Regions from separate parts of the Homo sapiens genome. Here region 1 is linked to region 2. The links come from fine-mapping of genetic effects on gene expression. A gene starts in region 2. The other region holds a variant in brackets. All regions are shown on one strand. Distances are between the middles of the regions.

Region 1 (16,786 bases), 72 kb before region 2:
ATGAAATAACATACATAAAGCACATGGTACATTGAGTAACCCCCAGCAAATGCTAGCTTCTTTGTTCATACTCTGTAATGAACAAAACAGCAAAACACATTTTTCCCAGTGTTTTAAAATTTTGAAATAATTTTCAAACGTTTTCACTGATGATTTATTCTGGAGCCGTAAAAATTTTTTTTTGTCTGTCACAAGCCCCTATATATACATAAATGTTCTCACACAGAACCTCATCCAAAGCAAGCAAAGAGTATTATTGCATTTTGCAAGCCAAAGGATAATGGGCTATGAAAGTGATCAATTCTATTCTAGTTACTTAAGCTGAAAGCTGGTTTATTGGAAAGAAGACCAGTAGTTTACAGAGTCCATGGAGAACTAAAAAATAAACACTCATTTCCATCTTCCCCTAGCTATGGGGGCAATTGTTACAATGTCACTGCTGGCATGGTCACCCTGGAATACCAGATGTGTGCTTAAAAATCTTCCTTGGTTTCCGTGACTATCTGTTAGTACCAGACCCTATTTCTGCACCAACTCAGAGCCGCTGAACCCTCATACCTTCAGGCTTGTGCCACGTGCCTGGCTTTCCAGGCAGGCAGTTCAAGAGAGATGGCTCATGGTGTGAAAAGCTCCACTGCAAACATTATCATATCTTTTATTTTATCAATCTCCCACTTCACCTGTGAAGTAGGAGATCAGGCACCCCCCTTGGATGGGGTTGGGTTTTGCATGGTCAATGTCTTGTCACTATGGCTTCTTTGTCAAAAAGCCAAAGCAGCTTGAGGGCTAGTCCAACCTGTTTATAGATACACAGAGCCTTGCCCAGAAGCTGCCCCTAAGACAGTTTCCATGCTCTCGATAGGGACCGTCTCACATAACTAAGCCAGCAAGTTGTGTCTTCTTGAGAGCTGTGGGTAGCCTAATGGTGCATCACTTTGTATTTTCCTTCTCCCCTTTCCTTCCCTTTTCTTCCCTCTGTCTCACTTTCCTTTTCCCTCTCACTTTTGCTTCCTTGGAATTGCACCTCCTCGATAAAAACATGGCATCTGAGCTTTTTTGCCCAGGCTTTGTTTCCTAGGGAACCTGTGCTAAGTTAGCATGACACCCCTAAATTTTAAACTTCTGGGCTGGAGCAGTCAGTTGGCTGATACTGGGCTACATCCCACATCCTTGCTGCCAGGGAACTGGGAAAAGGAACATCTGCCTCACTTATGATGCTATGATGAGAGGCGGAGTCCTGCCTCTCGTCTATTTGGATTAACCTCAAGTAAGAACAGTGTTTGGATTTTGAACAGGCACAATGGTGACAAATGTTCCCTCCGAACCCACTTGGCCTTAGCAGCTCTCTTCCTGCTCCTGGGTTTCTCTGGGTAGAGTGTCGCCCTCTATGCCGTGTCACCCCAGGGTATTTCCTCCACTTCCATCTCCTAACCCTGCCAAGTCAGTCTTCATCTGTTATAGACCCTTTGTTCTGGTGTGCTTGTTTTTCCCACGTTTCCCATTAGACCACATGTCCCATATTGCCCCATTCTTCCTAGCATCCCCATCCCAGAATGCAAAATTTAATTCTCTTTTGCATTTCACAGTCCACAGGCCAACCAGCCAACTGTCACACTTAGCCCTCACACTGGTCCCTTGTGTGGTTTAGCATTCCAGTTCTTTGCTTCCTGCAAAGTAAGAGGGGATAGTTTCAGATATAAACAGAAAATGCTGGATATTTTACATCTTTTAAGTAGAGAAAGATTAAGTCAGAACCAGCAGGAATCCAATTCTTTGGATTTGAACAAAGTGACTAGACATCTCGGCCTTTCTTTTGTAAAGAAGTATCTGGGGAAAGGTCTTGGACTGGCTTCAAAGGGGATTTTCCTGTAATTGTAGATGCCCTGAACTATAGCTATAGCAGACTATTTTGCAGCCTAGTCTGGGGAAAATGTACACATTATGCAATTGTTTAAAGATATCATTCATTCAGGTAAACAGAAGTGATAATGTTCTTGGTCAGCCCTCACCTGCCATGATTAGCAGGCTCACTCTCAAATAGTACTCAGGATCTTCAGGACGTGTTAATGTTTTGCATTTTGTCTCTCTCATTAACACAGATGCTGTGTCTGGCTATGCAGATTCTGTAATGCACAAGGGCACCACATATAAGGGGCATCATTTTCATTATAGACATCATAGATTTATTGTAACAGTTTTCTGGCAGATGGGAGTTAAGGGTTTTGTTTTAACAAATTAATATACCAAATCCATTTCCTGGCAGAGGCAAGTAAAGAGTTACCTTTGAAGAAGAATGGGCACGTTTCCTAGTTCTTATAAGGATGTTGTAAGAGGTAGAAAGAGCTCTTTTTGTCACTCCTTCAGCCCAGATGAGTGGACATCATGAGATGCCCTGACTGCTCCTAAGCTGCTTTGTCCTGAGAGTAGACAATGTTATTCACATATTTCCCCAAAGCTCAACTGAAACCAGCTAGAGTGCTTAATGCAACTGAAGGCTTGGAGCTTACAGAGGGAAATAAAAATATAGGAAAGGAAAAAGCAAATATCTTTATATTTCAACTCTTTCCTTCCCTTGGTCAGGTCTGCTGCCCATTTGTCTCTTTAGCCCAAGGGGATGACATGTTTTAGAGATCAGCTTACTGCCTGTAGCTGTAAGTGTCTTTGACCATGTCACAAGGGAGGGGAACATTATATCCTTATCCCAACCTATCTCTAGCGTGATGCCCCTTGAATGCCATGATAATCTCTGCAAAAATGCCACTCTGACAAAAATGAAGAGACTCTACTGCACTTGCTAATGTAGCTCAGCTTAGCTTTTTTGTGTCCTGGCTTGGACATTCTGAAATTTAATTTGTCTTTACCTTTGCTTAACAAAAGGGCCATTAATATATTTTTCACAAAATTAAATTTAGGCTACTTCTTAGCTAAAACAACAAATAATTGTCTACATCTCTAGCAGTCACTCCTTCAGAATCACTGGGGTTCAGTCCTTGAAGCCTCTTACTACATATTTAACCAGTATTTAAGGAGCTCCTTTTAGGGCCAGACCCTGGGCTAAGCACTAAGAATATCAGTCAGAAGCAGGTGTGGCCCAGATTACCTTCCAGCTTGGAGAAAGCAGCAGGTAGATAAATAGGTTCAAGAAACTGGCAAAGGGGTGACCATACAAGTATGTACAGGTTATAGTTGTAGCATGAGGAAATGGTTCTTTTCAACGGGTTGGAAGCAAAGGATTATAAAAGCTTCAAAACGGAGGAAGTTACAAGCAGTTGGCATGGTAAATAACAGGCAAAGGGTATTCCTGTTAGAAGAGCATATGCAGATATTGTCAGAAAACCCCAAGCAGCTAGGAATGTCTGAGTATAGAAAGGTGGGGAAGTGTCTACCAAGAGATAGAACGAAAACCCTAAGATGTTTCCAGATCAGAACGGGCCTTTTATGTTGTACCAAGAAGTTTTGACCTCAAAAGAACTGAGATGAAATATTTGAATCATAAGAGAGCTATGATTTTATCCCTGCTATTTGAAGAATTGATAAGGTCAAGGCACCAATTCCTAGACTGTCATGGTGGTCCAGGTGAAAAATTACAACTTCACGGAGCAGCCCCAGAGCATTTCAGAAGCCGAAATAAATGGATACGGAACATGTTAAGAATTGGGGATCAACAGAATTTGATGACTGGTGGTCCAAGTGAAGCAGAAGGAGATGTGAATATGGTAACATCCTGGGTTTGTGGGGAGCGGAGGGCTTTTTTGTAGTATTTTTCTGAGAGAGGAAACATAGAGAAGCTATGCATGGAGTGGGGTTTGTGGGGAGCTTTAGGTAAAATTAGAGCAGTTCAGGTTCTAAAAGTTTTATCATTTCCATGTCTTATGCACCTGAATCCCTCTGGGCATGCCACATTTTCTGCCTAAGGAACCCTCAAAACCTTCACAAGGGCTTGGGAGTTGGGACAGGGAATTGTTCCAGCCTTTACCTTTCCACTTCAGGCAGGACAACACCCATGCATTTATTGCTCCAATTCCAGATTCTCTTGCTTGTTGTCTTCACTGGCCCACCTCACCACAAGAGACTGACTGGAAATCCAGTTTCCATCCTTTACATCCACACACTCCCAATATATCACCAGGAAAATCCCAGTAAAGAGCGAATATGCAGTACTGAACTTTGGAATAAATCAAGTCACATAGTAGAGAAAGTGTAAGTGATATGGATCCATCTGACTGTGAACCTCTGGTTTTCACTTTGGGGTCAATTACCACCTCCGCAGATATGTCAAGACAGGCAGATAACAGCTAGAACCTATTGTTACTCAAGCTTGGAGATCAAAAGAAAATAAGCAGAGAAAAACATATCAAAGAAAACCCCAAAATCTCCCCTGCTGTGGAAATTTTCTTGTGGAGAGGTTAAAAATTTCCTCTGTCGGCCGGGCGCGGTGGCTCACGCCTGTAGTAATCCCAGCACTTTGGGAGGCCGAGGCGGGCGGATCACGAGGTCAGGAGATTGAGATCATCCTGGCTAACACGGTGAAACTCTACTAAAAAGACAAAAATTAGCTGGGCGTGGCGGCGGGCGCCTATAGTCCCAGCTACTCGGGAGGCTGAGGCAGGAGAATGGCGTGAACTCGGGAGGCGGAGCTTGCAGTGAGCCGAGATCGTGCCACTGCACTCCAGCCTGGGCCACAGAGCGAGATTCCATCTCAAAAAAAAAAAAAAAAAAAAATTCCTTTGTCTTGGGGTAAAATGTATTCAGAAATTTTATCTTACAGCTTGCAGAGTCATCGCTATTTCTCTTTTGTGTTTTTTTTTTTTTTTTAACTTTTAAGTTCAGGTGTACCTGTGCATTTCTTTAACAATACAGTTCATCTGAGTTGGTTTAGACATTCTAATTAAAAAAAAAAAAAAAAAGTTCCAGCAGGGGTCTCTCTTTGCACATGGTACAAAAAATTCTTAACAGTCACAGTGCAATATTTTTTATTTTGCTTATCCATCTTACAATGTAAATGAATGTGACTGCAAAATATGTCAAACTCTTTTCTTATATTATTAGAAAATCACTGAAAAGACATTAAGTTTCATATTATGATCTGGGAGGTGATTAAACATGTGTGTTCCCTATGTGATAATTCAACAAGTAGCAAATTTATAATTTAGGTACTTTTATGTTTACACATTATGCTTTTAAAAAGCTTGTTTTTAAGGGTACAATTCCTAATTTTACTCCTAATCATGTTTCTTTGATTTTTTATTTCACTTCTCATGTATCTAGAACATTTAGAATTTTGGTCATTTATGTATTTCATTGAATTTTATACATATTTTACAAATGATGCTTGGTGTGTATGTTTGTAGAGAAATAGAAAAAAATTCAAAAACATAGCTGCAATATTTTTTAAAAACCCATATTTTAAACTGAGGATTATCCAGTAAAAAGGTTTGTATTGGTTTTTGAATCATGAACTCTCAGAAAGAGGCAGTCATTGTTGGCACCCAAGCTTATGGGATGGATCCCAAAGGTCAGATAGATGATGGTTCTGTGATGTGATCTGTGACTTGGTCTGTACTTCTGATGAAGGCATGTCAGCAGGGCCTCCGCCTGAATACTTGGGCCTTCCTAAAGAGGTTTCCTCATCCTGGCTGTCAACCAGTGGACTTATTCTTAGCTGAAGAAACAATGACCACAAACCACCCCTTGCCATTTTAGCAAATCACACCCAAAATACCGTGAAAGAAATGCCTGTCATTTTTTTAAAAAAAAAATCCTATTATAGGCCGGGTGCAGTGTGGCTCATGCCTGTAATCCCAGCGCTTTGGGAAGCCGAGGCAGGCGGATCACGAGGTCAGGAGACCGAGACCATCCTAGCTAACACGGTGAAACCCCGTCTCTACTGAAAATACAAAACAGAAAAACAAACAAACAAAAAAATTGTCTGGGCATGGTGGCGGCCGCCTGTAGTCCCAGCTACTCGGGAGGCTGAGGCAGGAGAATGGCGTGAACCCAAGAGGCGGAGCTAGCAGTCAGCAGAGATCGCGCCACTGCACTCCAGCCTGGGCGACAGAGCGAGACTCCGTCTAAAAAAAAAAAATCCTATTAGAATCTGTGGGACCAGATTTCTGCAAAGCACCCAGACTGCTGGTTTTATTTCTATGTTTTAATCTCAAACTTGTGTTATTTTTCTCTTGACTATTTATGACTGCACCTATAATTTCTATTTTCATTCCTTTTTTAATGTCTTACTTATGAAAATCATTTCTTAATTCTACAAATGAAGTATTGACATTTTAGTGGCATCTTTTATAAAAAATATATTTTCCCTTCCCAAAAAGTTAATATTGGGCCATAAAAACCTTCAGTCCTGTCTGATAATAAAATATAGAAAATATCAATTGAAGATGTTTTATTCCAAATGACATTGCCACGTACTTTTTAATAGTATTAGAGTAATTCCCTTAATTGTTTCATGGAAAAAAATCCATTAAGATCCTTTAATGAAGAAAACATATATTTGTAATGGACCAAATGGCAATGTGCCCTTGTCTGAAGCAATTACACTGTCCAATAAAGGAAGACTCACATTCAAATGTGGTACCTTTGAACACCAAATATTACAAGAATTCCTAGTCAGCAGGATGCTATGCCAAAAGCACTCCACAAATGGTTTTCCCCTTTCTTACTATCTCGTGGCCTCATTCTAAAGATCTCTTCAATACTTCTATTAGCATACTAGAGAGTTTCAACATAGACTTTAACATTCCATGCTTATCTGACCCTGGGCTATTAAAATTGGTAAACATTATGAATCTTCTCATTTGAACATGGCTTTGACTATCTTATGTTTCTGCGTTTCTTCCTGCCTTGCTCTTTCTTAATGCGAGCCACGTCTCTGCCCTCTGTTTTGCTTATTGTTTCCCTTCTCTCTTGTTTGTTCAGCTTCTGTACAATCATTTCTCTTTGCTCTGGCCCTTGCTCTAGCCTCATGTTCATTTCAGCCTCCGCCTTTTTTCCTTTTCAAACGTCTTTGATTCCAGTTGACAGTTTAAGATTTTTTTTTTCTTTTACTTCCCAGAGGCTCCTGTTGCCATAGTGATACTTGATTACGAAGGCCATGACTGCTTCCATTGACACTCTGGTTGCTATAACAATGCCAGTTAGCCAAGAATTCTGTGGAAACTTGTGAGAAGGATGCTAGTTCACACCTTTCTGTGGGACAGCTTGCCAGGAAATGCTTCTTATTTAATGGTTGTTCCTAGTACTAAAACTTAAGTCCGTAAACTTAAGGGCAGCTCATTCTTCAGTAACTAAAAAACAGAGACACAAATATTTACTCTTCACACCATGTAAAATTCCTCTTCTTCCCTGACTTTGCTTGCCCTCTATTCCTAATCTATTAATTCTTTGGTATTAAAAAT[A/G]TGTTTGCTATGGGCTGAATTGTGTCCTCCCAAAATTCATATGTTTAAGCCTTAACCCTCAATGTGACTGTTTTTGAAGATAGGGCTTTTAGGAAGCAATTAAGGTTAGATGAAGCCATTAGGGTAGGGTTCTAATCTGATAGGCTTCGTGGCCTTATAAGAGGACACATGTTTTCAGTTATAAGTGGGAGCTAAATACTGAGTACACACGGACACAAAGAAGGGAGCAATACACATCTAGGCCTACTTGAGAGTAGAGGGCAGGAGGATGGAAAAACTACCTATTGGGTACTATGCTTATTACCTGTGTGACAAGATAATGTGTACACCAGCCCCCCACAGCACATGATTTATTTGTAGAACCAGTTTGCACATGTACCCCTGAAACTAACATAAAAGTGAAACAAAAAAGAGGGCACTGCAAGAAAGCAGCCACCTGCAAGCCAGGAAGAAAACCCTAACTAGGAACCGAATCAGACGGCATCTTGGTCTTGGATTTCCCAGGCTTCAAAAGTATGAGGAAATACGTTTCTGTTGTTTAAGCCACCTATTCTATGGTATTTATGACAGCACAAAGTGACTAACATGACACCCTAATATTATTTAACATCAATACCTCCTAAGTGCTTTTGATTTTAAAGACATCAATTTCTGGGAATATACCCAAGTAAGAGAATCACAGAATATTGCGATGTGCATTGTCAGTCTTTTGTCTTTGAATACTAGATGAACCAGGTGATAAAAATGGACACATTTGGCCAGGCGCGGTGGCTCATGCCTGTAATCCCAGCACTTTGGGAGGTCGAGGTGGGCGTATCACCTGAGGTCGGGAGTTCAAGACCAGCCTGACCAACATGGAGAAACCCCATCTCGACTAAAATACAAAATTAGCCGGGCTTGGTGGCATATGCCTGTAATCCCAGCTACCCGGGAGGCTGAGGCAGGAGAATTGCTTGAACGCAGGAGGCGGAGGTTGTGGTGAGCCGAGACCACCCCAACACAGTCCATCCTAGGCAACAACAGTGAAACTCCGTTTCAAAAAACAAAAAACAAAAACAAAAACAAAAAAAAACAACAACAAAAAACACACCAATGGACACATTTATTGCATTTTTGTGATCCTTTTTGTTGTTGTTACAGCTTTTTTAGTCTCAAAAATATAAAGAAATATGTAACTATTTCCATCTTTATAGATACTATAACTCACCCAAGAAAAGCTGTACAAAATGTTTCTTTTGTTGCAATTGTGTTACCTCCCTAGATTGTTAAGTTAGACAGCTTGCAATCATTCACACTGGTCCTCCCATTTGCGCCACTCACATGAAGAAAGGGAGCAGCCACAGCATCAAAGCTTGCTCAGGACTAACATATAAAGACCTTTTTAGTGACACATGTTCTATTATACAAAGTGCCAGATGAAGGTCAGTAACTGACCATGCACAACCAGAAAGGAGGAATACAAACTTGACATGTTTCAAAGTGTGTTAAAGTAAAAGATATAAAAACACAGAATTTTGCTAACGATGTGTTATCGGGTCAATTTATTCATTGGCTCCTACATTTGCCTCCACCAAAGGTGTCAATCAAGATAACATTAATTTATTGGAGCAGATGTGAGGCACTACAATATTTTTTTTAAAAAGTGTCAATATTCTATATTCTCAGGGCATACTTTTCCAGAAAATTGAAGATGTAAACATTCTGGAATTGTTTAATGATTCCTAGAGAATTTCAAGCAAAACGATGTTGCCTGTAGAGTGATATGAAAAGTAGTTTGTGGTTATTATTCTAATTATTCTAATTGTGCTACAAAACTAGTTTCTTTTTCTTATCATAGAACAAGAGCCCCTCTGTTATTACTGTTAATAACAATAACAACTTCCTATTATGTACCAGGCACTACATTAAGTACTTGATACCTATTATCTTCCTCCCCCACCCTCCACCGAGAGGGAGTCTTGCTCTGTCACCCAGGCTGGAATGCAGTGGTGCGATCTCAGCTCACTACAACCTCCACCTTCTGGGTCCAAGCGATTCTTCCACCTCACCTCCTGAGTAGCTGGGACTATGAGTGTGCACCACCACACCCGGCTAATTTTTGTATTTTTAGTAGAGACGTGGTTTCACGATGTTGGCCAGGCTAGTCTCGAACTCCTGACCTCAGATGATCTGCCCGCCTCAGCCTCCCAAAGTGCTGGGATTACAGGTGTGAGCCACCACACCCGGCCAGATACCTATTATCTTTAATTCTCACTATAGACTTGAAAGCTAAGAAACTAGCACATGGGGAAACTGAAGTTCTGAGAAGTAACGTAACTTGCCTAACTTGCTCACATTTTGAATATTTCCCTTCAGGCTCAGGAAAGTAAACTGACATCACAGCCCAAAACATGATCAGTCAAAGCAGCATACCAGGAACCCTAAGGTTGGCCCTATATTCAGTTGCATACATTTTGGAATCACAATAACTAAATCCAACTAACTGAACAATGGTTACAAATTAACATTATCTTTAATTTGGCTTGTTGGTTTATTTCTTATACTATCTAGGCATCAACCCCCAAGCACTTTTCTTCACCATCATCCCCCACTTAATGAACCAGGTAGAATGTAGCTGAAGAATGCAAATAAGATTCATGAAACATTAAGTGAGTTTTAGATTAGGTTTAATTATTTAAGGAAACTTCAAACTGGAAATGTAGAAACTTTGATCTCTAAACTGCTGCAGCTTTGAGTGACTGAATTGCTGAAAGTGTGTTTGTATGTGTGTGTGTGTGTAGAGAAAAAATAGCAAATGAGCAAGAATAGGAGCAGAGTGACTCAGAGGAATCAGATCTGTTGCTGTATTTTGTAATTTCATTAGTCATTTTATGAGTAATGGATTAGAAATTATTGCAATATATAACCACAACCAATTTTAGGACATCTGCATATTACTAATTGACATATAATATAAATAAATTGCCCTTCTGAGTATTGTGACTTTGCATACACTTTGGTTCCTGGGAATCCCAAGGTATAAATGATTCTGTCTAATACTTGGGTTTCTCAGACCAAACCTTTCATGTCTCTTAAGGGGGAAAAAAACCCTCATCAATAAAATATTCTTCAAAGAACTGTCTTCTCTTTGAACATGCTCATGTCATACTGAGTTTCTCCATAGAAACAAGAGGATTCTCAAATTTCTAAGAGATGCTCTCACTAAAAGGATGCTAGAGATTAGAATTTTAGAGATAATAGGGAGAAGGGCCAGACTAATCCAGTGGGAAATTAAGCAATGGCTTGTAGATTATCAGGCTATTCATCACCTGGTCATTGTTCCCTCTGCTGTAGCTACTTTCATGAACTAACCCCAGAAAGCAAGAAACAGAGGGTGTCTTCCTAGTGCTTAAGTCTTGGGTCATCCAGAGTGCATCCCTCAGGTTACTGTTTAGAATACAAGACAACTTGCAATAAGAAGCAATAACCCTCCTTGAATTATCCATAGAAATTAGCAAATTGGGAAGTGCTATGGGTATGGTGTGGTAAGAAAAGGAATAGGTGAAGAATCAAGAAACCTGCTTTCTTATCCCAGCTTTCTCATTCTAGGAACAATTTTGAGCCAACTAGTTATTATTTCTGGGCTTTAGTTCCTTCTAAAAATGTAGGGGTGCTTCAGGTAAAGCTTTGACAGTGTCTCCATCACTAATATTATGGCCACTAAACTGAGAAATGAACAGTCTACATTTTAGTAGACTTCTAGTCTACTAAAAATGTAGGAGTGCTTCCGGTTCCTTCTAAAAATGTAGGGGTGCTTCCGGTTCCTTCTAAAAATGTAGGGGTGCTTCAGGTAAAGCTTTGACAGTGTCTCCATCACTAATATTATGGCCACTAAACTGAGAAATGAACAGTCTACATTTCTGCTCCTCAGACAAGGATGATACACAGTTGTCCCCTGGGGACATGAAACTATAAAGCATTCAAGGGAGGAATGGCAAGTGACTGCGTAAATGAGCTTCTGGTTCCTTGACTACAGGATCCTGATGCTTTAGACTGTTAAAGATCTTTCTTAATAGCTTGTTTACACCCCCTTGTTGCAAAAAGTATTTGAGGTGACTTAGATAACTAGCAAATTAAAATAATTTGAAGTAATTGGACTAAAAGGAAAATGAGCTTAGTCCAAGACCAGCACATCAAATATAAAGAGGTGGAAAATTGGATTCTAATCTTCCTGTAGGTAAATTATAAAGAATAGTCAACTACAAAATTCACTGTATCTCTAAGTACCGTGTGTGGTAATGCTGGCTGTAGTATAAGTAGAGGTGAGGTGCTTTGCTTAGGACAGTTATTCCTACAATTGAAGTAAGAGATTGTATTAGTTAATTCCCACATTGCTATACATAAATACAGGAGACTAGGGAATTTATTTTAAAAAGAGGTTTAATTGGCTCATGGTTCTGCAGGCTGTGCAAGAAGCATAGTGGTATCTGCTTCTGGGGAAGCCTCAGAAAGCTTCCAATCTTGGTGGAAGGCATAGGGTGAGCAGGCATCTCACATGGTGGGAGCAGGAGCAAGGGAGTGAGAGGGGAAGTGCTACACTTTTACATGACCAGATCTCATAAGAACTCACGTACTATCATGAGGACAATACCAAGAGGGATGATGCTAAACCATTCATGAGAAATCCACCCCCACGATCTAATCACTTCACACCAGATCCCACCTCCATCATTGGGAATTACAATTCAACATGAGATTTGAATGGGGACACATATCCAAACTATATCAGAGATGTTTCTCATGGTTTCTTACAAAGGAGAGATATGTGATATGTCATAGTGGTTTTCAATTGGGATATGAATAGAAGAGGTCCTTGTTAATATACAGAATTATATGTTAGCATATAGAATCATAATCCTAAGTGACAATCTCAGGCTTATGATTAAGTAGCTTTGCATGCGTGCATTTGACAAGAGCCTCAGATTCTTTCTTTTTTTTTTTGAGACAGAGTCTCACTCTGTTGCCCAGGCTTGAGTGCAATGGCGCGATCTCCACTCACTGCAAACTCTGCCTCCCAGGTTCAAGCGATTCTCATGCTTCAGCCTCCCAAATAGCTGGGACTACAGGAGCATGCCACCACGCCCAGCTAATTTTTGTATTTTTAAGAGAGACGGGGTTTTGCCATGTTGGCCAGGCTGGTCTCAAACCCCTGGCCTCAAGTGATCTTCCCACCTTGGCCTCCCAAAGTGTTGGGATTACAGGCGTGAGCCACCATGCTTTGCCAAGAACTTCAGATGCTTTTGATGTACTCAAGTCCATGGACATGCTTTAGAGAAACCACTCCTCCAATGAAGATGATGTTGACTTTCAAGGGATATTTTTTCAATGGATTCTTCAAAAGAAGCAGATGACATAGGGGCAAAAAACCAAATTAAATAAACTTTATGTGGTCAAAAAGAATATACAGTCTGGGTACACAGCTCTCTCAGGTTCATGTTTGATTCTATGTTAAAATATAAAACATCAAGAAGGATTAAAATAGAGGTCACTCCTTATAGTGAGTTTAAAGGTACTCCCTTCATAATAAAAGGAGGCTGGTAGCAAACAACTGCATTGTTAGACAGAGTTCGTTGAACATCATATGCAAAACTGTCTTTTATTTTGGTTCAGGTTGATTAATCCAAACCCTACATACTTCACAGAGGAATTGAGATTTAGGATTGGCTTCTTGACTCTCAATTGTCTGCAGTTCCTTAAAAACTTGAAGCCAAATTTTTAAATTGTCGAAGTATCTCCATGTGGCCACCCCTCTGAGGTTGGAATTTGGCAAGCAAACTCTTTGTTTTTGATTCTTTCTCTTGGTCCTCCCCCTTCCTGCCATCCCTTGGTCATTTGATCATTTTCACTGTCGGTTTGCCTCAATTACCTCTTTTTTTTGTGGCAACTTTATTGAGGTATAATTTACATGCCCTAAAGTCCACCTGTTTAAAGTATACAATACTTTTTTTTTTTTTTTTTTGGAGACAGAGTCCTGCTCTGTCTCCCAGGCTGGGGTGCAGTGGCATGATCTTGGCTCACTGCAACCTGACGGGGGTCTCACCATGTTGCCCAGGCTGGTCTCAAACTCCTGAGCTCAGGCCATCTGCCCACCTCGGCCTCCCAAAGTGCTAGGATTACAGGCATGAACCACCACACCCTGCCTAAAACATACATTTGTATGGCTTTTAGTATATTCAGACTTGTGCAACCATTGCTACAATAAATTTTAGAACATTTTCATCACTTCAACTCCTCCTAAAACCTATATACTTCTCAGCTGTCACAATTGGTTAACTGCCCCTTCCCTCCAATCCCAGGGCACCACTAGTTTATTTTCTGCCTCTGCAAGTCTGCATATTCTTGACATTGCATATAAATGGGATCATATAATATGGACTTCACTTTCTTTTGTGGAGTATCCCTTCTTCTAACTCTTGTTCAGCCTCTGGTGCTAGTTGGTCTTTTAAAAATTTATTTATTTGTATATATTCATAGGGTACGAGTGCAATTTTGCTACATTGATATATTGCATTGTGATGAAATCACCACCTTCAGCACATCCATCATTGGAGCAACAGACATTGCAGCACTAGGCAGCTAGTTTATCTTAAATTAAAAAGAGCACTAGGAATGGACAAAGTTTCCAATCCTATTTTAGGAGATACCTGAAAGGTAATTACATTCTCTGTTTAGAAATTTTTTTTTTTTTTTTTTTTTTTTTGAGACGGAGTCTCGCTCTGTCGCCCAGGCCGGACTGCGGACTGCAGTGGCGCAATCTCGGCTCACTGCAAGCTCCGCTTCCTGGGTTCACACCATTCTCCTGCCTCAGCCTCCCGAGTAGCTGGGACTACAGGCGCCCACCACCGCGCCCGGCTAATTTTTTGTATTTTTAGTAGAGACGGGGTTTCACCTTGTTAGCCAGGATGGTCTCGATCTCCTGACCTCATGATCCACCCGCCTCGGTCTCCCAAAGTGCTGGGATTACAGGCGTGAGCCACTGCGCCCGGCCAGAAATTTTATTTTTCCTTCTTTTTGCATTTCTTTTAGTCTGTTTTATTAAAAGGCCATATCTATCATTATCACCTCAGGAAGTGACTGGGTTCAGGGAAGGTAATGAAGGCACAGGAGGAAAACATAAAACCTCTGTGTCACAGGGATGATGATGATGATAATTAATGAATAAATTGTATTCTTTAGAGAAGCTTTAGGTTTAGAGGAAAATTGAGCAGAAGGTATGGCGATTTCCCTTATAGCCCCTGTCCCCACACATGTACAACCTTCCCCACTACCTATATCCTGCTCCACAGTGGTGGTGCAATTTATACAATTGATGAACTTACCTTAACACATCATTATCACCCAAAATCCATAGTTGAAATTTCAGTTCATTCTTGATATTGTACATTCTATGGGTTTTGGCAAATGTACAGTGGCATGTATCGACCATTGTAGCATAATAAGGTAGCATACAGAATAGATTCATTGCCCTTTCTCACAGCAGAAGTTTTTAATTTTAATGAAGTCCAGCTCAATTATTTCTTTCATGAATCATGCCTTTGGTGTTTTATATAAGAAGCCATTGCCATACTCAAGGTTACTTGGGTTTTCTTCTGTTATTTTCTAAAAGTTTTATAGTTTTGTGTTTTACATTTATGTCTATGAACCATTTTGAGGTGTTTTTTTTTTGTAAAGAATATAAATTCTGTGTCTAGAGTAATTTTTTTTTTGCATGTGTATATCCAGTTGTTCTATCATCATTTTTAAAAAGACTATTTTTGGTCTATTGTACTGCTTTCACTCTTTGCCAAAGATCAGTTGGTGATACTTATATGGGTCTATTTCTGGGCTTTCTGTTCCATTTGATCTGTTCTATTGATCTAGCTGTCTATTCTTTCACTAATACCACATTATCTTGCTTACTGTAGCTTTATAGTAAGTCTTGAAGTTGGATAGTGTCAGTCCTCTGACTTTGTTTTTTGACTTCAATATTAAGTTGGCTTTCTGGGTTTTTGTTTTTGCCCCTCCATATAAACTTTAGAATCAGTTTGTTAATATCTACAAAATAACTTACCAGAATTTTGATGGGATTAAATTGAATGTATAGATCAAGTTGAAAAGAATTGATAACTTGGCAATGTTACATCTTTCTATCCATGAACATGGAGTATCTCTCCACTTATTTAATTCTTCTTTAATATCTTTCATCAGAGGTTTAGAGTTTTTCATATGTAATTATACAATTATAAATATAAATAAGTATAACATGCAACTTATAATTTAAAAATAATTAATATAATTATAAAATAATATATATTTAATTATTCTGTTGGATTACACCTAAGTATAAATTTTTGGGTGCTAATGTAAATGATATTGTGTATTGAGTTTCAAATTCCACTTGTATTTTTTGCCCATAAATAGAAAAGCAATTGACTTTAATATGTTAACTTTTATCCTGCAACCTTGCTATAATTGCTTATTAGTTCCAAGAGTTTTTTACAGATTCCTTCAGATTTCCCATAGATGATCATGTAATCTACAAACAAGATGGTTGTGCTTCTCCCTTCCCAATCTGAATACTTTTTAGTTCCTTTTCTTGTATTACTGAATTAGCTAGTACTTCCAGTATGATGTTGAAAACAAAAAACAAAAAACAAAAACAAAAAAACCCCAAAACAAAAACTTTGTTTTGTTTCTGATCTTACAGAAAAGCTTCAAGTTTCTCATCCTTACATATGATGTTAGCAGTAGTTTTTTAGTTTTTTTGTAGTTTTTAGGTTTTTTTCTTTATTTTTTCTTTTTTTTTTGTAGATGTTCTTTATCAAGTTGAGGAATTCCCCTTTAACCTAATTTGCTGAAACTTTTTGTCATAAATGGGTGTGGATTTTGATAGATGCTTTTTCTGCATCTATTTATATTGTCAAATGGTTCTTCTTTAGCCTGTTAATGTGATGAATTAAATTAATTGATTTGTCAATGTTGAAACAGCCTTGCATACCTAGGGAAAAATAAATCCCACTTGGCTGTTATGTATAATGTTTTATATTCATTTTAGGTCAATGTACTAATTAGTCAATGTACTAATATTTTGTTGGGGATTTTTGCATTTATGTTCCAGAGAGATATTAGTCTTTAGTTTTCATTTCTTATAATACCTTTGGTTTTGGTAGTAGGTTAATGCTGCCCCAGAGAATGAATTAGAAAGTATTTCCTTTGTTTCTCTGTTCTGAAGGAGATTGTAGAGAATTTGGTGCAATTTTAAAAAGTATTTCCTTTGTTTCTCTGTTCTGAAGGAGATTGTAGAGAAATTGGTGTAACTTTTTCTTAAATTTTTGGTAGAAATCACTGGTGAAACCATC
Region 2 (16,786 bases):
GCAACTCCAAGGTCAGCAATGTGAGAAGTGAGCCATAATTACGCCATTGATACCCTCCCCACTCCCACCTCCAGTCCTCTAAAAACAATGGACACCAAGGCTTGGTTGAGCTTCCCTGGTTCCATTGCCACAAGGTTCCATTACATCTTTGCTATAAGTAAGCACTGTCCACACAACTCCACTGGGAGAAGACAACTGGAAGCTCTGTCTGGTCTCTCCTGGACCTTGCCCTATGTGCTTCCTTCTATTTAATTTTAATCTATAAGCTTTTGATATAGCAAACTATGAGTATAATAACTCTGCTGAGTTCTGTTTGTCTAGTGAATTACTAAACCTGAGGGGGGTTTTGGGGAACTGCTGCCTATCAAAGGTCATGCAAATGTCCTCTTGTTTTAAGGCTTTGTTTTTATGCACATTTGGTTACGCCACCACTCTAGAATCACTCTTTGTGCACAGTGTGGTATGTGAATTACTAGTCAAGATACATTTTTTTCCTATGTGACATTCACTTCACCTTGCATCATTCATTGAAAAGACCACCTTTTCTCACTGCATTGATGTCACTTTTGCCATAAGTCAGCTGATCTGTATGTTTTTATATTATTTTCTATTCTGTTCCATTAGTTCATCTCACTGTTTTGAACAAATATGTCTCAATTACTAATTCTTTATGATGGTACTTCGAATCCATTGAATCCTCCAGCTTTGCTCTCCTTCAAAATTGGCTTGGCTATTTGTGGCCTTTTGTATATCTACGTGAACTTTAAGCTTGTCTTTTTTTTTTTTTTTTTTTTTTTTTTAGACCAAGTCATGCTTTGTCACCCAGGCTGGAGTGCATGGCGCAATTCTGGCTCACTGCAATCTCTGCCTCCCAGGGTCAAGCAATCGTTCCACATCAGCCTCCTGAGTAGCTGGGACTACAGGCAGGTGCCACTACCCCTTGCTATTTTATTTTTTTTTCTAGATACTGCGTCTCACTATGTTGCCCAAGCTGGTCTTGAACTCCTGAGCTCAAGTGATCTGCCCACCTCGGCCTCCCAAAGTGCTGGGATTACAGGTGTGAGCCATTGTGCCCAGCCAGCTTGTCAATATATGTATTTTAATTTGCTGGAATTTTGATGAGGGTTATATTGAATTATAAATTAACATTTTTACATCTGTTATCTTTACAGTATTAAATCCAGTAATCCTTGAACACATTATATACTTTTATTTATTTAGATATTTAATTTCGCTCAATATTGACTTGTAGTTTTCAGTGTAGAGACGTACATCCTTCCTTCAATTTATGCCTAGGTATTTGAAAGGTTTAAAAATGATGCTATTATAATTTATATAACATTTGTATGGAAAACCCAAAAGAAACTACTGCAGTAGTTAATGGTGATGACTATTAGCAATTTTCCTAATTGCAAAGACAATATTAAAAAAGCAATTTTATTTCTATATGCCAACAATAGAAAAATTATAAAAAACATAGGCTAATGTTTTATTTGAAAAATATTTTTCTTTTAATACTGACTTAGAAAAATCTGTGGAATCTGAAAGTAATTTTTTCTTTGAGGTAGGGTCTTGCTCTGTCACCTAGAGTACGGTGGTAGGAACATGGCTCACTTGCAGTCTCGACCTCCTGAGCTCAAGTGATCCTCCCATCTCAACCTCCCAAGTTGCTGGGACTACTGGTGCGCGCCATCATGCCTGGCTAGTGTGTGTGTGTGAGTGTGTGTGTGTGTGTATTTATTGTTGAGACAGGGTTTCATCACATTGCCCAGGCTGGTCTTAAACTCCTGGGCTCAAGTGATCTGCCTGCTTTGGCCTCCCAAAGAGCTGGGATTATAGGCATCAGGCACCATGACTGGAGGAAAGTAATTTTTAAAATAATTATTTTCTTAGAATTTTCCCTGAAATGTCCTTTGCAATCTATTTCCAGTGTTATGTGGAAAAACAATGTAAAAATGCAATTCATTGGTAGTCATTTTGGTAGGATGATACATTCCAAAAAAATGGATAGACATACACGTTAACTATCGAATGATGTAATGATTTTTACAGAGTTTAACATTCCTTTTAGAACTCCAATAACTGTATTTATTTAACCTGCATACTGATGACTGCAATTAGGGGTCACTTTATCTTAGAATAATTAAATATATCATGATATCCTAGTTTAATCCATTAAATTGTTACTTTCAGTTTGCCAACAAGTTCTTATGGTCTGGTTATCTTATGATTAAATCAGCACAAAATATATTTCACTTATTTATAATTTTTCAAGTTTTATTTTCTAAGTAGCAGGCAAATTCTTCAAGGAAACCTAATTATAACAAAACAGTATGTCATATTTCTATTTCATTTGATGTAATTTAAATTTTAATTCCTGATTTGTCAAAAAATAATTAGAACTTTACCATTTCCCAAATATAAAAGAAAAATGTCCTGGATATCAATCTACAGAAAGGCATGAAGCTGCAAAGGACAGAGGAGAAGGTGATGATGTGTCAAATCAGATAGACCAGTGTATCAATTATAGTTCAAAGATGGAGACTCTCTTGGGTGAACCCATAATTCTACTGGCCATACTCCTTGATTAGACTACACTGGATAATAAGACATCTCTATAGTTAGTTCCCCAAAATTAGATATCTTAATTATTTGCCTATAGAGTTTTATAAGTCCTTTTGTAAGAAGAAAACAAAATGGACATTTCTGGACTATATCATTTTGAACATTAAATACACATTATATTTGATACCCAAGTGTAACACTTACCTGGCCTCTCTCTCCCAGCTGTGGCTGACCTTTAAAACTGGCACGGCCATTAGATTGAAGACTATAGCAGGTCTTTTACCTATACAAGTGGTTTCTACAAAAGGAGCCTGGTAAAGAAAACTGAGTCAGAAAGAAGGTGGCACTTTTGTTATCCGGATGAATGCTTTTGCTCTGAACAGGCAGTTGCTGTTCTCCAAGATCTCTGGCATGCTTGCCCAGAGAGAAGAGCTGTGTAGCCTCCATCATCCATAGAGGTGGCAGGAACACCATTTGCACAAGTCAGAATGAGGAAAGGTAGGAGACTTAGGATGTGAGGCTTGAGAGAAAAACAGTTGACAAAGCAGCAGCAAAATTCTCCTAGTGTACACAGCCTATTCTCCTGAGGGGAGTCATATAAGTGCAAATATAACATCTATAGCTACAGGAATTTTTTGTTTGTGCTCTTTTAATATTTATTTTATCTATTTGTCACAAACATGTAATGAATGTTGGTATGCATGTATCTGCCTCCTCCACTGGACTCTGAGAAACCACACACCCAGAATCTTGTACATGGTTGGAACTAAATAAACCACACTGTTAGAATGCATGCCAATCTTTAAAATAGACTATTGTAATGTTAATTTATACCTACATACATGACTTAATTTTCAAAAGATCTTAACAAGTGGGTACATAAGTCCCCTCTCAGTGATGTGTTAATTTTTTAAATATTTGTAAATATTGTGTTCTGTGCTGAAACAAACTGGAAAAAAACAAGTTTTAAAAATGTACTGAGCAAAAGGAAAATGTGCCTCTCTATTAACCTAGTCAATGTGGAAAACTATAACACTGCATAATATTTTGAATTAATATAAATCATGAATTATAATGTTACAGTTGCATTTGGGCTAATTTGTATTATTCTGACAAGGTCAGAAAATTATGTGATTCAATTATTTCAAGCAAAATCATGGTTTTAGTATGTATGTTTGACAATTCTATTTTTACAACCAATGAAGCCAACTGTTTGATACAGAATCTGTCCTAGAAAATACCTATGTAGAGAGTTATGGATTTAAAATACAATAAGATGTTTTAAAAATTCGGTTAAAATGCTAAACAGATTAAAAAAAAAACCCTTTAACAAAACTGGTCCTTAAGGTACCTCTCCTAACACACATAAATCAGGTAATTGAAACATAAATGGACACTGAAGAATATGGACACGTGAACTGTACTTGCATCTTCCTCATCCTTTTCCTCTCAGTCTCCCTCATCTCAGTACATGGTGCTAGGATCTGAATGGTTGTGTCAGTTGCACCCCCACCCCCTTGTGCCATAATTCATATGTTGAGCCCTAATCCTCAATGTGATGGTATCTGGAGGTGGGTCCTTTGGGAGGTGACTTGTATTCTTATAAAAGAGACCCCAGAGTGATTCCCTTGTCCCTTCTGCCATGCGAAGACACAGCAGAAACATTTATGAATGAGGAAAACACCCAACACAAAATTTGCAAGCACTTTGATCATGGACTTGCCCCCAAAACTGTGAGAAAGAAATTTCTGTTGTTTATAAGCCACTAGTCTAAGATATTTTTGTTCCAGCAGCCCCAAAGGGCTTAGACAAATGGTAATTCTTACAATAGTTTAAGACAAAAACCATGCCATAATACCTGATGCTTGCCTTTCTCTCACATTAAAATCTTGAGTAAACTTTGTTAGCTCTACGTTCACAATATATCCAGAATGTGCTAGCTTTTTTTTTTTTTTTTTTTTAACCAGCTAATACCCATCATTTCTAGTTTGGATTATTACAATAATACTGAAAGTGTTTATTCCTTCAATTGTTAATCCACCTACTACTGGAACAAACCACTTAAACCAGACACTGTTCTGGGTTCTTTAGTATACAGGAAATTATCTTTTTGGACTTTACAAAACGAATACCTCTTATCCACCCTGAATCTTACTATAGTGCACTGTCTCAGGACATGACTGCCAGAGCACTGAATATAGTCAATATGATAAAATAATTCTAATACCCAAGTAAAAAAATCATTTTCCAGGATGGGCTTCCAATGCTTTGCTTCTAAATCCAACTAACTTGGAAAACCTAATTGGTATGTCATTCAGAATATTCTGATGATAGATCACTATCGGTAAATGATTCTAGTCAAAAGGAATAAAAAGAAATGAATGAAATTGCTATATAAACATTCTTTTTATTTTTAAACATAAATGAAGATGTTTTGGCCCTTACATCTCTAAAAGCGAAGAAGAGAGAAAACTGATGTTAGACTTCGTCTGATTCTAGCAATAAATAATATTTGTTCATGGAAACCTAATTTTAAAAAAATGCCCAAGCTAATTAAGAAATACATTTCAATAAAATGTTACTTTTTATATTTATTCAAATTGGGATATTTGTTATTTTGATCAGCTGAACACTAATTATAGTTGTAATCATACAAAAAATTCCTATGTTAGCATTTAGGAGATTATGATCACAGGATATACACAAAATTTAAATACAGTTGTCTGTTGGTATATACCTGGGATTGGTTCCAGGACCCCCGGTATACCAAAATCCTCTCATACACAAGTTCTGCAGCTAGTCCTGCAGAACCTGCTTACAGTAAAAGTCAGCTGTCCTTGGGTTTCATATACAGCATATACTATATTTTTGATCCTCATTTGGTTGAAAAAAATCTATGTATGAGTACAATTCAAACCTGTGTTGTTCAAGGGACAACGGTATACACATATTTTTTGCTGCAGGAAAGGATAACCAATAAGGCTTATGCCTAAAACCGTACTATATAGAATTCTTGTTAGTCAGGGTTTCTCAACAGCACACTATTGAGATGTTGAGTGGGTTAATTTCTTGTTGTTGGGGGTTGTCTTTTGCAATGTAGGATATTTTGCAGCATCCTTGGCATGTTCCCACTAGACAACAGTAGTACCCCACTCCCTAGTTTATGAAATCAAAAATGTCTCCAGACATTGCCAACTGGCCCCTGGGAGGCAACAGTCCCTTGCTGAGAACCACTGCAGTAGAGAATAGAATAGTAATACAATGTAAAACTTTGACTATCAAAATGGATGTTAGTATCAAACTACTATGGTATTTAATTCCATCTGATAATATTTAAAACAGTGATAGTTACTGTAAAATGACATTTTACAATGCACTGGAAATTACATTATTTGCCATTACTTAAAATAATGGTCAAGAACTTTAAATGATCCACTGGTTGAAAGCATCCTGTAGTTTATAGGAAAGGTGAGTAATGCACATTAACCTTCACTTAGAGTTTTTTTTTTTGGAAACGGAGTTTTTGCTCTGTCGCCAAGGCTGGAGTGCAGTGGCGCCATCTCGGCTCACTGCAGCCTCCGCTTCCTGGGTTCAAGCAATTCTCCAGCCTCAGCCTCCCGAGTAGGTGGGACTACAGGCGTGCGCCGCCATGCCTGGCTAATTTTTGTATTTTTAGTAGAGACAGGGTTTCACCGTGTTGGCCAGGATGGTCTTGATCTCCTGACCTCGTGATCCGCCTGCCTCGGCCTCCCAAAGTGCTGGGATTACGGGGGTGAGCCACCGTGCCTGGCCCCAATTAAGAGATATTTTGCAAACCTTAATATGGCACTTTGGAACACTATATGTTTATCTTGTATAGTTCTAAGACTTTTTTCCTTTTGATGAATGTATTAAGTTCTTGAAAACTATCTCTCCTGATAAACATCTAGAAAATTTAACTGAAAAGATCAGAGCTTTTAAACAAATGTAAACTACTTAGATGCAGAGCAAATGTTTTTCAAAATTCAAATTGTGTAGACTAGTAACCGTGTTTTATTTCCATGTTTCAAATGATGCCTATACAATTCCAAGCATCTGGAGGCTGAGAATAGTTTAAGAACTCCAAAGACCTATTCGATACAAAGAAGCAGTACAGGTACCTCCTTAATCCTGTTACTAGTTACCTAAATAGTCTCACTATGCCCCGGTTCTCTCAGCTTAATCAGTTTAATGGCAACTTATGTAGTACTTTTATTGTTTTAAACCAATTCTAAATAGATTGTCTACTATTAATCGAACAAATTTATGAGGCATATAGAAAAGATGTCAGAAAGAAGAAATTTGTAGTTAAGTAATAACTTGCTTTGTTTACAATTCAGCAGCAGCAGCAGCCTCACAGCTGAACTACAGCACAGGTCTCCAGAACCATCACACCAAACTCCTTTTCCTAAGAAAATCTCACTTGAGCTTTTAACTCTATATTATATGGAGTTTGGGGATATTTGAAAGCAAGTTAAATAAAATTCCCACCAAAGGCGGCATAAGGCACTAGGCAGAAGTAGCCAAACTTAAGTACAGTAAGTCAATTTCTAGAAAGCTTTGAATATTATTTCAATTTGTCTGTCCGTATTCAATGCAAATCGTTACAAAATCACGTCTATTTTGAATTTATTAAATTTCTCAAAGTTTTTTTTTCAAAATCTGAGTTCTTATAAGAATTTGTAACAAATACCTGTTACAATTAAACAATACTGAAAGTATTGTTACTTTTGATAACCTGGTATAGATGTTTCTTATTAACCCGCTGTAGAGTTGATCTACACATGCCAGTTACCATGGTCTTCTAAAAGCACTGTTCAAGCCCTAAAATTAACTCAGTTAAGACTCAGTTGTTTAATAACGTATCAGGAACCACCTGTCCCTCAGACTAAAAATCACTTCTCATTTTAACTACTCTAGCACTAAAAGTGAATAGCATAATAATGTATCTACTAGCGCTACTGCTAAACAGTCCGGGTCCCCTGAAACTTATCCCTAAACACAGTGCTTTCGTGCGGCATCTGCGCCTTACTTTTGCAGTCTGGGGTGACTGAGTCAACGTGACCGTGCGGAGCACCAAGCAGCCCCGGGTCCCCATGGCTACCGCCAGGGCAACGCTTCGCGGCCCGCTCCTCAGGGACCCTCAGGGGCGGCACCGGGAAATCAGCTTTGCGGAGAGGAACCGCAGGGCTCCGGGGACGGGCTAGGGCAGCCGGCGGGCAGCAGAGGCAAGCCTGGCAAACTCTTCCCGGCTTCTTCGCGGCGCTTGGGGCAGACGTCCTGGCGACACCAGGCCGCGTCGGTTCCCCTTCATCCTATTTTCCCTTTAACACGGTGGCTTGAGAACTTTATTTTGTGCTCACTCAAGAAAATTTTAAATGATTTTACAGATACAACCCCAAAGATGAAGCTCCAACAAACCCGCCACTACTCGAGCCTTTCTCACCGTCTTCCTCACAGGCCCCACCCCCTACCGCGAGGAGCACGAGCTGAGGGGAACACAAGCCCCCGTCGGGCACTCCCCGGCCTCGCCCCACCCCCCAGGCGCGCACCCAACCCATATAAGGCGAGGGGAGGCAATCGCGCCAGCTCTGCCTCCGCCTCGCGCGCCGTCCAGAGGGAAGGATTTGCAATAGACTTCCTCAGTTCATTTCTTCTTATTCCCTCCTCCCTTAAAGGGCCGTTTCCACAATAGTGAAAGGAACGCACCAGTAAACCACAATAATCATAAAAGATGACTGTAATTAAGACTCTTTCTGAAACCAGAAACCGCGAGTTCATGCCCCCACCTCAAGAGCCCGAGCTTCCCCCTCTCTGAACCGCCCCCACACCCGCTCCCGCGAGCTCCCGCTTACGCTTTCCGGGCGGCGCGCGACGCGCTCGCTCCGCCCCTCTGGCCCCGCCCCCGGCTCCCCTTCTTGGTCTCAGGAGAGCCAGCGCGCACAAGCAAGGGTGTGCGGCTCTGAGACGTGCGTTGCTGCTTGTGGGTGTGAGACATCCTAGCTCCTCTTCCCCTTCCGTGAGTCCCTCCTTTCCTCGCAGACCCCACTTGTCGTGGCTGGCTGCCGCCGCAGCTCTTGTGCGAAGCCAGCAGTGCGCGTGCGCGCGGGCACGGGCGCGCGACCGTCGGGTCCCCGCGCTCCCTCCCCCTCCCGCTCCTCTATAACTTGGCTGGCGTGGAGGAGGCGCCGCCGGAGTCGGAGGGCGGGGAGCTAGGAGGAGGGAGCTCGAGAGTTGTGGAGACTAGTGACTGGGAGAAGTCGCAGCCCGCTCAGGCCCGCGCCTTCCCGCTCCCCGTCTTCCTCTCTCACACACCTACTCCGCCCTCCGCCCCAGCCCGCGCGCTAGCTCCTTCTCTCGCCCGGGGTTCCTGCCGGTAGCTCTCCGGGTCTTGGCGCGGCGGGGGCGCCCCGGGGGTGCCCTCGCCCTCCCGTTGCGGGCGGGCGGGCGGTATGTGGCGCCTGGTGCCCCCGAAGCTGGGCCGCCTGTCCCGCTCGCTGAAGCTGGCGGCGCTGGGCAGCCTGTTGGTGCTGATGGTGCTGCACTCGCCGTCGCTGCTCGCCTCTTGGCAGCGCAACGAACTGACCGACCGGCGCTTCCTGCAGCTCAATAAGTGCCCGGCGTGCTTCGGCACGAGCTGGTGCCGCCGCTTCCTCAACGGGCAGGTGGTATTCGAGGCGTGGGGCCGCTTGCGCCTGCTGGACTTCCTCAACGTGAAGAACGTGTACTTCGCGCAGTACGGCGAGCCCCGCGAGGGCGGCCGCCGCCGAGTGGTGCTCAAGCGCCTCGGCTCGCAGCGCGAGCTGGCGCAGCTCGACCAGAGCATCTGCAAGCGGGCCACCGGCCGGCCCCGCTGCGACCTGCTGCAGGCCATGCCCCGGACCGAGTTCGCGCGCCTCAACGGCGACGTGCGTCTGCTCACGCCCGAGGCGGTGGAGGGCTGGTCGGACCTGGTGCACTGCCCCTCGCAGCGCCTTCTCGACCGCCTGGTGCGCCGCTACGCGGAGACCAAGGACTCGGGCAGCTTCCTGCTTCGCAACCTCAAGGACTCGGAGCGCATGCAGCTGCTGCTGACCCTGGCCTTCAACCCCGAGCCGCTGGTGCTACAGGTAGGCGCGGAGCCAGGGCAGGGGGCGTCCTGGGAGGGGCCGCGCGTGGGAATCAGAGTCGGGAGAAGTGGCTCAGCCAGCGCTTGCCGCCAGTTCGGACTCGGCCGGGCTGGGCCAGGCTGCAGGCGTGGGAAGGGGCGTCTCCGGGGGAGCCCCGGGGCTGTGCAGGGAGGCCGAGGGCGACCCCGCTGATGGAGAGTCTGCTCTTGTTACCTAGATTCGGGCGCATTTCGGATTTGACTGTGGATCTTTCAACGCCAGAGGGAGTGCGTCTCTTAACACTCCCCAAAATGTCTCTACTGCGAGTTTCCTTCCGCTCTCTACCCTGCCTTTCTGCTTTTATCTGCCGGGGCTTGCAGGTCCGCGGCGCAGACTGTTCACGAGCCCTTGGACCTTTCCTAGTTCTTCTGAAGTGTTCTACACCGCGTTCGCTCTTCCTTTTCTGGCGCTGGTGGCTGGCCTAACTTCGGTCTCAGAGTCTTTGTTTTCGCTCATTTACCTGGCAGTCATTTGGACACCTAATTCGAGGACAAGTTGGGGAGGATGAAGTCGGAGAACGGGACAGTGGTCGGGGTGGGTTTAATCTGTGAGCCGAGCTTTGGGTGGGATTAGAATCAGAAACAGGAAAAGTAAGGCAGCGTTGGACTTGGGGCTGGGAGGGCTTAAGGCCAGACAGACGTTTTCATCCTGATCCTGTGACCTGCCCTATTCATCTGGTAATCTAGTTGAAGGGAGATGAAATATTAGGCCAGGGCGAGTATCAGGGAAGGAGATTCTTGCCTTTCGCCAGTTGCGTTGTTTGCTCTCGTCTGACTGTTTTGAAAAGTAATGTGCCTTTTAGGGGAATAGGATGGAATCTTTACTGGTGACATCAAAAAGAGAACAAAAAACAAAAACACTGTTTACTTTCGGAGTATTTGCTTGTTTCTGCACATTCCCACCCAGCTTCAGTGCGGTGTCCTTGAACAGTGATTACAACTGTGGGGTTGTGGTTTCTCCTTCTGTCTGCAGGAAAAGTTACCGTGCTCCTTTCCATGACAAGAGAAAAAAATGACTTAAAAGTTCACAAGTAATTTTGGTATACTTCACATTCTTTCTGGGTTGCTGTCACTGAGGGCTGGAGGTACAGGGTTTTTTTTTTTTTTATTTTTCTAAAATGCATGAATAGGAAAGTGCAGATTTCTTTATATTATTTTCTTTTCTCAAGCTCTACACTGCCCATTTTAGCTTTAAAAGAAACCAGCTTCGTTTGATTAGTTCAGCCAAATAATGTAACACAAATATTTGGCTTCAGATGAAACTTTAGTGTGGGTCTTAGTAAATTTTAGGACATCAGAGGCTATGTGTATTGGGTTAATTTTAAAGTCAGAGTGTGTTTTAAATACTGCTGTATCACCTAACTGAATGGATGCATAAAACTGGTTAAACTTTCCTTGAAGAAATTTTCTTTATTCAGTAGTTCCCAAACTAGTCAGTCTCTAAAGGTTTAGCCTGTATTTATGATGTACATACACTTGAACTGAAGTTTCTCATTAAGCTATCTTTAAAAGAGAACCTTGTTTGTATTAGCAAGGTTGGTTCTTGGAGATCGTGTTAGCATTTTGCTGAAGTAGATACCCGGACAAATTCTCTGAGACCCAGAAATTTAGCAAGGAGCTGTCTTAGTAATATACATTTACTGTACTTAAAATGCTGGCGTCCCTACCGAAAGATTTTTTTTTTTTAGGTAATTTTGAATAGTGATGTATTAGTAACAACTAACAGTAGAATTGATATTTTAAGAACATTATGTGGCCAGTTCTTTTTAAGTGTAGTCATAGCATTGAATTTGAGAAACTTTGGCATCTGATTTACACTAAGGTAAATTTGTGCTTTGTGCAGGAAGGTTTTATATTTTTTTAAGTTTGAACTTCTCATGGCATTCTCAGTTTACTTTGTAGTTGAGATAGTCAAGTGTGCGTGTATCTTGTTTTCTGTTTAACTTTTCCCTCAAACTTACTCTTTATCTGTTCTCATCTTTAGTGATGAAACAGCCTTTTTTGAAAAAGCACAATTATTTTCTTATATATGACACATAATGACACAGCTACTTTGAGTGGGTAAACACATGGGCCATAGGATAAGAATTTGTTTTTAGTATGTGATGAAACATGTCTCCACGTTTTAGAGTGAGGTTTGTAAATTACATTTTTAATTTACACAACCCAGTTCCCAGGAATAGTACTAATACTAATATATGTATTATAATTATAGCTGAGTACATACTGTGTAATATAATTTTGGGGTCTTTAGTACCAGCCAGTCATATAGGCATGTAATTTTTTTAAAACCTGATTAACAAGCAAGTAGAGGAAGAAGATATTTTTAAGTAAGAGTTTTCAGAGAGCCGCTGCTTTCTTTGTAGAATCACTTGATCTTTGGAAAAAGCTAGTGAATTTACAAGTCTGAACAATATACTTGAGGTTTGATGATTGTATAAAACCACCAAAATGAAAGGTATCTCAACATTCTGTGATCAAGTACAAAAGTTGCTGTACAGTAAGTCAAACCATGATGTTCATTACCTTTGTTAGCTAGGAAACTACATTTTTAGTATTTATACAGGTTTTTATAAAACTGTTTATAGCTGTTTACAGTAATACTGGGATATTAATTGATACAGAAAAACTCAGATTTGGCTGTCTATTGCTTCATGTATTAAAAAATATATTTTTAAGAGTACAAGTGTTTTAACAGCTTGAAGAGGAACTCACTTTTTTCCTCCAGGAGAGGGAGCTACTTGTCGAATTTTTGGACAGCTGGTGACAAACTAGATTTTTCTTATATTGTCCAAAAATTAACAACTTCAGGGAAAAAAAAGTCTTTGAACTGACTTCATCCAAGTATTCTTAACAAAACTTCCAGTATCGTAAGCATGCTTCAAAATAAGCATGTAAAAATTTCTTTTGATAAGGTGTTTAAGAACTGAAAAATACTTACGAATTTAATCCATTAAACTCACCTCTTCTGATTTGAAAAAACAGTAAAAAATTGAAGTTGCTATTATTCCTTGAAAGGAGAGGTGAAAGACATTAAGTGTCTAAGATGTTTACACACATACCTTATCTATGTAAGGCTGTAAAGATTTGTGATATAAATTTCCCCATATGAAATGGCATGAGAGTATGGCTTTCTTCTTATTGTTGGATAGTTTCACTAGTTTACAACAGTTTACCCATAGAATTATTATCTTCTAAAAAATGTTTATAAACATCAAGCAACAAGATAATGCTAGTAGTACCTTTATCTTCTACTCTGATACCCTTTCCTCGTCGTCACATTTTTACTTCACTAAGATGTGTGTATTTTAGTGCCAGGTATACTGTAATCCTATGAAAAAAAAAATGGAGGAGAGGAACTATGTTGACTTTTATATTGTGTAAATAGGAATCTTGAAGTATTCAAAAATTGAGTTGTTGAAGTAATTGGCAAGATCACAAGTTATTGTTGATAAATTTTCCATCGTATTTGTATTTAACCTATTGAATTTACAGAAAGGGAGAGTGTGTGTGTGTGTGTGTGTGTGTGAGAGAGAGAGAGAGAGAGAGAGAGAGAGATGCTGTCTGGATTTGTTGAAGTTCAGACAGAATCTCTGACTTTATAACCTGGAAGTAGTGAAGATGGTCTTGTTTGTAGGAAATGGAGAAAGCTCTTTGTTGTTTAGGGGGACGAGCTGGGAATGTTACTATTTGTGGAACTTCATTTGCCTTAAATTTTCTGAATCATGGTTTTAATAGGATTTACTTTATTTTTATAGTATATGACTATCATTAAGCTATGGTTTTTAAGCTTGCTTTTCTATTCTTATAAATGATATAATACATGCAAAGCACTTCACGTAGTATCTGGTAAATTGTAAGCATTCAATAAATGTTAGATATTGAATAAAGTAAAGGTAACTTTAACTGCCTGGTGCATTTGATCAGCTGTTTTGAAGCTCATTTGGGGTATGGATCACCTTAAAAATAATGGTGATTTTGAATATCAACCATACTTTAGTTATACTGATTTTTTTCCATTATTACTTTGATATAATTTTTTGTAGAAAACTTTCAGTGAATGTTGTTTTTGCCTTTAAAAGTAATTTATATAGGGAACAACATATTTTTTAAGTTCACTGGTGAAAATGTAGTTTTTGAAGTAAACAAAAGATTATTTAGCTAACGGTACTTTAGAAAAGTTGATAGATTTTTACTATTGGACTCACTTCCTTCTTTATAAAATGAAGCTATTGGATTAGATCCTTTTCAGCTCCAACATTCTGGGGCTTTCAAACTCTTGAGAAATTTGGTTTTTATTGTTGTTGTTGTTGTTGTTGTTTTCTTTTGAACTTTAACGAGTGGGTTTAATTAAGCTCTTCTGAAAGGGGATTGGGAGTGGGATGCTCTCTTTCAAGCCTTTCTTCCTACCCCCAAATTTTTACACACATGAAATAAAACAAAAACCAAAACCTTCCTTTAAGGGGAAATATGTGGAGTTAAGGGTAGCCAAGGATCTTGTGAGGCAATAGTGTGCAAAACGATGTTCCAGACTTTGTTTCAGGAGTTTCTTTTCAAACAACAGTTTAAGGAACCACCTACTTCTCCTTTACTGGCTGTTTCTTTAGTAACTGTCTTCCTAGATTTCGGCTTCAGAACACATTAGAGATGGTTCTTAGTAGAGCAGTTTTTAATCTAATAAATTTTGTAAGTTTTTGAACTTTTTGTGGCTTTTCATCTGAGAGTCCATTGACACTTTTGATTGCTCTTCAAGATAATCAAACAAAAATAATAAAACAATTTTGGATACCTCAAGTCCAAAAAGGGGGTGGGGACTTTTATTTTAGAAAGACCCTAGAAACAGACAATCGCCCTTAAGAAAGCATCACTTCAGAATCAGTAGAGCAAAGTCATTTGACATCCTGGACTAGTTTCTGGACATATCCATATCTTTTGACCATTTTGAATTTTGTCCTTTGTATACTTTTGTCTAGTCTTTGAACTATTCTTTATATTTCCATTGCATAGGTTAGCACATATTCTCACACATGTTGGGAAATAGAAAGCTTGTTTTTATAGGTCTTCTGGACATGGGTGTCCAGCTTCTCAGGGGATTGTCAGACTGGTTTTTATTCTGTTTTTTTGGTTTGTGGGCTCTGGCTTACTTCCTATTTTTCTGTCATTGCTGCTGACTCTTCACAGAATGCTATTTTTTTCTTTCTTCAGCTTTCACTCATTACCCATATGTTAAATTATGGCCTTATAATTTAAATCCTGCATTTTTCTAATACATTTGATGAACTTTAGTAAATGGTTGTAACATGACTGAAAATTATTAGTGTAAGGTGAGGTTAGTATAAGGTGATAGGAAGTTGTCTGTGAAATTCTTGAGAGCTCTTTGAATTTATAACCAAAAGAACTGAATTTGTCTGTTCATTTTACAATCTGTTACAAGGCATTTGGATTGAAAGGATGGAAAGATGGCCGTAGGAAACAAGTAGCTTACTATGTAGGAGGTAGGTACACAAATAACTAATTATTATACAATCCATTTAATAAGCCCTGTACAAAAGGTATCTATATCTATCTATCTATCTATATATATATATCTATATCTATATATATATATATATCTATATATATATATATATATCTATATATAGATATATATATATCTATATATATATATATATATACTGTCACATGACTCAGGGAGGGACATCTCATTGTATATTGATAGGAATGGTACCAGGGAAAGTTTCAGAGATTTTGCCAATAGATGGGGGTGGAGAGTGGGAGGAAGGGTGGAGGGGGCAGTATTGATAGAGCATCCATTTCACATTCTGTATTACCACAAAGTTGTTGGATGGTATTGAGCAAGTCACTTAATGTTTCCGATTCTAAGTTTTTTTAATCAGTAAAATGGGGTTGTTAATACTTACCTAACAGGATTGTTTTAAAGATTAAAGAAGAAAGGATTATTCAAGTAATATCTGTTAAATGTTTTCAGTTGTAAAGCTTTTTACAGTGTATTATTTCTTTGAAAATCAGCTTATTCCATTTTTAGACAGCTATAGTAGTTAAAAGTTCTTTAGTACATTATGCTGATGTCTGTCTTAGAAATGTAAAAATCCTACTTTTCTTATTGCAGACATTCAAATGTCACTGTCCTTACATATACGTAAATCATATGTACCTATTCAGGCTATAGTTTTTTAAAAATAGTAGTTTAAAAGGGGATTAGGGATTTGTCTCATATGAAGTGTAATGAATAGAATGAATATGGTAGGAAAGACGGTTTAGATAAGGATTAAGAAGTAAAAGGCAAATAGTTTCTTTTTTTCTCTGTAAATCATTATTATAGTTTAGTAATTCTATTTAGTACATTGGTAAATGGTAGTACAAAAAAACAGGTTAAGTCTAGACCTTAGACTCTGAGACAGAATCTTAAAAGATTTGTAATCTGAAGTAAGTATGATGCTTCAGTGTCTTCGTATTTTTTCTTTCTAATGCTTTTTTGGGGGTTAACTCTGAAATGAAAAGATCTGACAGTAATTATGTGGAATTGGTCAATAGTGCCAGGAACTGATCTGTATATACCCCTGGGACACAGTAAGGGTCAGTTGAGACTAGTAAACTTATGCATATTTAAAACTTGTGAACAAGTGAAGTGTTTTTTGTTTTGTGTTTTTTTTTGGTGGGGGCAGCATTTCTTAAGCAATTTATTCTAAAAGATAATCTATTTCTATTAAATTTAGTTTTTAAAATGTGTTTTGACATCAGTTTCCAATTTTAGATACAGCTGTTGGACATGATATTCAGTAAAATAACACAACCTTACTATTTTCAAGGCATTGTTTAATATTGTTGGAATTTGAGGTGGGTGGAAAATGGCATTCAGAAAATTATTTCATGAAATAAATGGGACATATGCTAGGACTTAAAAATCTTGAAATTGTTAAGCTTCTACAGTATTTGCAATGGATTTTGGCTGCTATTTAGCAGTATAAATTAAGAAGCTAAGATCTTAGAGAAATTTTAGCAAAAATTCAGTAACCATTAAATCATCCCCGTAAT

What was found.
Region 1: its variant is fine-mapped to the expression of DIPK2A in lung (TOPMed, PIP above 0.99).

Annotation. Positions count from the first base shown.
Region 1 is chr3:143,891,075-143,907,860 of GRCh38, forward strand. No RefSeq gene overlaps it. Among named protein-coding and RNA genes, the nearest start is that of SLC9A9, 51 kb to the left of the region's middle. The variant A/G (reference allele first, on the strand shown) is at 7,410.
Region 2 is chr3:143,963,298-143,980,083 of GRCh38, forward strand. It overlaps DIPK2A (divergent protein kinase domain 2A), which reads left to right and starts at 8,526. Exons shown (of 3, transcript NM_173552.5): 1 at 8,526-9,692. The coding sequence starts at 9,036. RefSeq lists enhancers at 7,832-8,412, 7,892-8,001, 8,272-8,361, 8,413-8,993, 10,002-10,261 and silencers at 8,092-8,141, 8,472-9,121, 9,612-9,851.